Linked DNA regions of Homo sapiens. The protein of the gene in region 1 purifies or fractionates together with the protein of each later gene. This does not show direct contact. Each region holds a gene or a part of one and is shown on either strand. Other genes may lie near its edges.

Evidence for each region. Proteins that work in one complex are often made in the same cells at the same time.
Region 2: the proteins of PEMT (region 1) and PADI3 purify together in Homo sapiens (affinity purification with mass spectrometry; one large-scale study listed by BioGRID and IntAct). This does not show direct contact.

What each region holds. Positions count from the first base shown.
Region 1 is NC_000017.11:17,511,709-17,515,208, forward strand, and holds part of PEMT (phosphatidylethanolamine N-methyltransferase), read right to left. Parts: intron 947-3,500; coding exon 801-946; intron 1-800. UniProt on the Homo sapiens protein: Catalyzes the three sequential steps of the methylation pathway for the biosynthesis of phosphatidylcholine, a critical and essential component for membrane structure.
Region 2 is NC_000001.11:17,255,598-17,259,097, reverse strand, and holds part of PADI3 (protein-arginine deiminase type-3), read right to left. Parts: intron 1,853-3,500; exon of another isoform or gene 100-1,852; intron 1-99. UniProt on the Homo sapiens protein: Catalyzes the deimination of arginine residues of proteins.

The sequences.
Region 1 (3,500 bases):
CTCCCTGCTCACTGGGAGGGGCTCCCCTTGGACAGGGACTGCCTCCTTCTCTCCTTCCAGGTTCCGAAGGCCCCCTCTTGTCCCCCACCCCTGCCCCCATCTCCCCTCCCACCCCGACCCCTACTGCCTTTCCCATGGCTGCTTTTCTTTCCCAGATTCCAAGGAGCTGGAAGTTGCTGCCATCATCAGGGTCATTGGTGGGCGTCTAGCCAGGCCAGCACTGGGCTCACAGCCTGAAAGCACCTCAGCCACAGGCAGAGGGAAATGGAGAAGGGATAAGGTGCCTCCACCCCTCACCCCTCCCCAGACCTACACCAGCCCTGCCTGCGGCCAAACACGGCACAAACCACAATCCTGCCTGGCCTGAGAGCCACGCGTGCCGGGAGCTGCCAGAGAGGTGGCTGACTCACCACCACCTCAGGCTTCTGTGCAACAAGGCCTGAGAGTCTTCTGCAAGGGGGAGCTGGTGCTGGAGCTGGACTCAAGGAGTCCTGCACCCAGCCCGGGCCGCAGAACGGGCATTGAGTGCATCTTCATTAGCTGGAGAGAAGCAGCAGGAGCTGCCTTCACTCCCCAGGAGGCAGCCGCTCAGCACGCTGGGGTAAGAGGAGCTGTTGGAGCCCAGCCTCCTGTTCTAACCACAGACAAGCCAGGCCTGGAGGAGCAAAGACGCCCCGATGGAGGGGGCCCCTAGCACTCCCACCGATGTCACGGATAGCAGGGCAGCAGCCACCTGGCCCTGCACCTCCCTGGGGCTCCAGCGGTCCTGCTCAGGGTCACCCCAGCCCTCAGGGTCTTACCTAGGAAAGTTCCAGCGAACCCCAGTGCAAAGAAGCTGGAGAGCACGAGCACGACGCCCAGTCCCAGGAGCGCGAGGCCCAGGCTGTAGGCCGCGGGGGTGTCCAGGCTCTCCATCCTGGGCTGGCTCAGCATGGCCTGCGTGAAGCTGTGGGCAGGGGATGGAGAGGGAGGACGTCATGGCCAGGGAGGATGTCACAGCCCGGGAGGAGGCCGACCTCATCTTCTCGCCCTCTCCCCAGGGACCCTTAGAGAGTAGCCAGCCCAGGGCTGCCAGGCCAGGCAGGCAGCAGGTGGGGTCCAGTCCACCTGGGAGGTGGGTGACAGTAACAGGGAGGGGCCCAGGCCTGTCAGATTTTTAAATTTTTTCAAGAGAAGCCAGAAATCCTGACTCGTATGTGAAATATCCTAATTTTTAGAAATAGACAATTCATGAAAGCCACTTTAGACCCTGCATGTGAGCAGGCTGGATTCAGCCCGAAGGCCACCAGCTTGCAAACTCTCATCCTGTCCAATGAGCAACTCATACTATGGAGGAAAGTGAGGCTCAGGAAAGACGCAGGTGCCAGGTTGCAGGGCAGGCCCAGGTGTCCCATTCCCCAACAGACTCAGTGCCCCGAGGCCTGGGGCATGCTCTGTGCTAGGGATTGCGCTTCCACAGCCCCTGTGGGTCTGGCCACATCCTGGGTGGCTTGACTTGCATTTAAAGGCACTTTGGGGGCCCTTAATGTCCTCCTCCACACCTGAATTCCCCCACTAGGCTCCCTTTGGGGCCAAACCACTGAAGGCCTTGTAAAAAGGTAGTGGGGTCCAGGTGTGGTGGCTCACGCCTGCAATCCCAGCACTTTGGGAGGCCGAGGTGGGCGGGTCACCTGAGGTCAGGAGTTCAAGACCAGCCTGGCCAACATGGTGAAACCCTGTCTCTACCCAAAATACAAAAATTAGCTGGGTGTGGTGGTGGGCACCTGGAATCCCAGCTACTTGAGAGGCTGGGGCACAAGAATCGCTTGAACCCAGGAGGCGGAGTTTGCACACCACTGCACTCCAGCCTGGGCAATAGAGCGAGACTTAGTATCAAAAGAAAAAAGAAAAAAAGAAAAGGCAGTGGCGTGACCAAAAGGGGGTGACTATGACAGCAGTGGGTCTAGAGGCTCAGGTTCTCCAGTTGGCTCCGGAGAACTGAGGGGCTGGTGCAGGGAGGGCACAGGGGCTAGGCATGTGCTGATGTACCCAGGCCTCATCACAGGGGAGCGGGCGCTGGTGGGAAGGGGGCCCTGGGTGCTAGATGAGAGGCACACTCACAGGAAAGGCTGTGTGTGGGAGCACGGACATGTGTGACCAAATGTGCTCTTCCCATGCTCACAATAATCACAACACAGAAGAGACATGGAGATCTGCTACCTCACGCAGGGCAGCGCCTTTCACACCCAGTCTGTAGACGGCATCTCCCAGCAGGGCCAGCTTACCATCCACCCCACCACCCATCCTTCCTCCATCCATCTATCCTCTATGCACCCACACATCCATCCATCTGTCCAGCTATCCATCCTTCCATCCATCAATGTATCCTCTATCTGCCCACACAACCATCCATCCATCCACCATGAAGTATCTTTGTTTGCTAGGCTCTTTCAAGCAGATTGAAGCCCCCATCTTCATCCACTCGTTCCATTCATTGGTGAATTCAGATTGTTGTGAAACTCCTTATGCTGAGCTAAGGACATACAGACATGTCTTTATGCCTCCCTGGAACTCCTTCCTCCAGCTTGACTGGGAGCTCTTGGGGAACAGAAGTTGCTCCTCCTTCCCTGCGTATCCCCCCAGCACTTGGCCCAGGCCACAGAATGGATGTTTAGTGCATATTCATCGACTGGAGAGAAGCAGTAGCCGCTCCTTCCTTCTCCTCCCATCCCCAAGAGCAGAGAAGGAGCCAGGGAGAAAGGGAGAAGGGCCTGTGGACAAAGCCACCAGGACCCGGTGGCAGAGGCGGGCACACCGACCTGTTAAACAGCGGCATTCGGGTGTCAGGGCAAACCCACTGCCGGTCATGCTGCCCATACCCCCAGCTCTCCACCCACCAGTGCCCTGCCCTGATCCTGCTGCTGCCCGGGCTCAGGGTCACCCCGCAGCTCCAGGCCGAGCCTCTGGGATTGGCTCAGGGTCACGGGCTGCCATGGAATCAGGTGGCCACATGCACACCCAGTGTGGTGCCACGATCCAGGCACACCTTCTCCCCTGCCTGGCACCCTCCACTCTCCTGCCTGCAGATGGTGGAGTGGGAGGGAAAGGAAGGGTGCCGGCCCTGCTCAGGAGCATGGCTCCCCTGCAAGCATCTGGCTCCTTGGCTGCCACTGCAGTGGGGACCAGAAAACAGACAGGGGTTGGGAGGGGCGAACAGGGGAGAGCATTCCAGAAAGAGGAAATAGCAGGGAGGTGTGCCTTAGAGTCTGGGGCAGGGCATGGAGCAGGGAAGGTGCAGGCCTCGGCCCGGCAGGGTTTGGAATGCACTCTGCCTGCTGTGGAAAATGCAGAACCAGGGAGACCCATCCAGGTGCTGCAATAGGGGGTGGGCGCAGAGGCCAGGCCCGAGACGCTGGAGGGTCACTCTGGACGGAGACTCTGTCGCTCTTACCCCCTCCTGCGGAGACCCGAGCCAGGCCTGGGTCCATACCCCATGCTCAGGGTTCCTCTGCCAGAATTCA
Region 2 (3,500 bases), on another chromosome or scaffold:
ACCCTGTTTCAAAACAAAACAAAAAAACATACACACAGTCTGATGTTCTAAGCCCCTGTGTTCATTAACATTTCCCTTGTGAGTTTCTTTACCACTCACCAGAATGGCGAGCTCTTCGGAAGTCAGAAGCCAGCCATGTGCTCGATAAATCCCCAGTGCAGGTCTGGGCACGAAGAGCTCAGTGAACACCAGCCATTGGTGGGTGGAGCCCCTTACAGTTCTGAGAGCTTTAAAAAGAGCAATTCTCACCCCAGATCCCATCACATGTCTCCTTAGTGGGTGGGAAGATATCCTTGAATTCTTCCCTGGGAAGGGAATTCAATCTGGTTGAGTGCCCGCTGCATGCCAGGCACCTGGCGCACGCAGCTCCCTCCACTCTTACAAGCTGTAAGGTGAGCAATATCATCCCCATTTGGCATATTAGCAACTGAGGCTCAAGGAGGCCTCGTGACAAGCCTGAGGTTGCATCACATGGCAGAGCCAGATGTGCAACAGGTCTGACTCCAAGCCCATGCTGTTCCACAGCTCTGCAGTGTCACCCGGGAAACTTGGCCGGATTTGGTCAAACAACCAGAAATTAATTGCAGGTTTAAAGTATCTGTGATGTTATCTGGCCCTGAGATTGCATTTCCCTCATTCCACCTAGCCTGGGGTTCCTCCTTGGAAACCAGACTATGCATCCTTTGACTGTGGGGTGCCCACTGTGCACTCAGGTACTGCCTGGCGGGCAGATCCACCCACTGCTCTCCCCACTGTTGATCCCGCTGGGGAGCTGAGGACCAACATTGTCCAGGGCAGCCAGATGGGGCTCAAGGCCACAGGATCACAGCTCAGTGGGAACCCATGTAGGGAGAGGCCACTGCGAGTTGGAGGGCCTCCTGGAGGCAGCGGCATGCATGCCCCTGGGGGATAACAGTGACTGACACTTACTGAGCTCATGCTGTGTGCCAGCCCATCATGCAATCCTCTCAATAACCCTAGAAGGGAGGCACTATCTATTATTGTCTCCCATTATACAGATGAGAAAGCCGAGGTTAAGTAACTTGCCCAAGGTCTGTGGCCGGGCTGGGATCCAAACCCAGCCATGTGGCTCCTCAGTCCACACTCTTGCCCACCACCTCCCCAGGAGTAATAATAACAACAATACCATAACATAAAAAGCCCCCAGCCTCTGCACTCTTATCACGGCAGGCCTGCCTAAGCCTTTTTGTACATTAGCTCATCTGATCCTCACTGCAGCCCCAGGATGAGATAATTACTCCTGTTTACACATGGGGAAACTGAGGCACAGGATACGTAGGGGACTACCCCAAATTTCCACAGCTGGCCACTCCCCCCGCTTCCCATCTTCCCTCAGAGTAAGGCAGACCTCCCCCAAAACAACCTCTTCACTCTTCCACCAACATGATTCTCTTACATCTCAAAGCAGCTTTTTTATGAAAAGGGAAATAAACCAAGCCCAAGCTTCTCTCCATCAGGCAGGTCCCACTCTGGTGTCTGGGCCCCTGTCAGGTGTCCTCACCAGTTGGGAGGGACAGACACACCTGTTTCTCCTCCTAAGCAGGGCTGCCAGACTTAGCAAATAAAAATACAGAAAGCTCAGTTGGACTTGAATTTCAAGTGAACAGTCAATCATTGTTTGGTACTCCCGTGAAGTATTTGGGATACACTTATACTAAAAAAATTATTAATTATTTACCTGAAATTCAATTTTAACTAGGCATCTTTTATTTTATCTGGCAACCCTACTCCCAAAGCCTGTAATTTCCAGGGCTGGTGGAGCCCTCTGGCCTGTTTGGCCCTGGGCAGCCCCCCACAGGGGAAATGGCAGAACCAGGGAGAGAGGCATGAAGACACAGAGACAGAGAGATAGGGACAGAGAGACTTGGAGAGACCCAGCGAGATGGAGAGTCAGAGACAGGGAGTCGGAAAGAGACACAGGAAGACAAACCCAGGTAGGAAGAGCAGCCTCTCATACCCTCGGGAACACCCTCAGCCACGCTCCTGAGGCACTCGCCTTCCATCTCCCAAGGAAGCCTTTTTTTTTTTTTTTTTTTTTTTTTTTTGAGACAGAGTCTTGCTCTGTCGCCCAGGCTGGAGTGCAGTGGTGCAATCTTGGCTCACTGCAACCTCCACCTCCCGGGTTCAAGCAATTCTCATGCCTCAGCCTCCCAAGCAGCTGGGACAACACAGCCCACCACCGTGTCCGGCTAATTTTTGTATTTTCAGTAGAAACAGGGTTTCACCATATTGGCCAGACTGGTCTTGAACTCCTGACCTCAAGTGATCCGCCTGCCTCAGCCTCCCAGCTGGGATTACAGGCGCGAGCCACCGCGCCTGGCTGAAGCCTGTACACTTTTTATGGAACTCCCTCAACCCCAAAGCTGTTCCTTGGGCCTCCAGTGTCCATGGGCAAGGGCTGAGCGCCCTTGATGGTCCTTCTGGTATGAAAACCCCACTCAGTCCCCAGGCTCCAGCCCCTGGGTGTAGGGTGTTTCAGCCCAGCGCCCCTGCCTCTCCATGTGCCAGGCTCTGTGTGAGATGCTGGGGGATCCCCAGTGAAGACTGAAGCACCCCTGCCCAGGAGGGTCCCCAGGACCACGGTCTGAACAAGGGCTTAGCACAGGTGAACAAGCTACATCTGAGGTTGGGGAAGGGAGGGGCTGCAAGCCGAGGGCTCAGGTGGTGCTGGGACCAGAGTCAAGAATTAGGTTTTAGACCAGGCTGGGTCACACATCGGCCAGCTGAGCTTGACTAAATCACTTAGTCTCTCTGGGCCCATTAACCTCACCTTAAAGTGGGATAATGACACCTACTTGGCCAACCTCATGGGCAATCATGAAACTCAAGTGTGATAATAGACAGGAAAGGCTTGCAACACCATTGGCCCAGGACAGGGAAGGAGTTATTAAAGTAAATGAGGGTGCAGGAAACGGGTCTGGAGGCAGGATGAGACAGTGGGCTGGGTGGCTGGGGCAGGTTCCCCAGGGAAGGCACCAAGAGGAGACACAAGTGAGGGGAAGGTGTTTTCACCGTGGAACCTTAAGAGGTCTAGTTTAGACTCAGGCTATAATGAGCTTGTTTTCATTTCATCCCTATGTAATGGGGAGCCAGCGCTGGTTCTTGATCAGGAGGGGCAACATGATGGAGCCGTGGCAAGGTACTTGAGCCTGTGGTCCCTGGGGCCAGACAACTGGGTTCAAATCCCAGTCCCACCACTCATTAGGTGTGTGACTTTGAGCGAGTGACTGCCTCCCTCAGCCGCAGCATCGACATCTATCTGGTGGGGATGAGGAGAAGATGAAAGGAACCAGTGTGGGTAAAGCACTCAGGATGAGCAAAAGTCATGCCCTCATTTCACTGATGGGGAAACTGAGGCCCAGAAGATAAGTGACTAGAAGGTAGGGCTGCTGACTTCCAGTCCAGTGCTCATGCCTGTCATGAAAGCTGTGTGTTAGGAGAATGAGAGGGGCAGCTGCTGGGAGGAGAACCTGCATCAG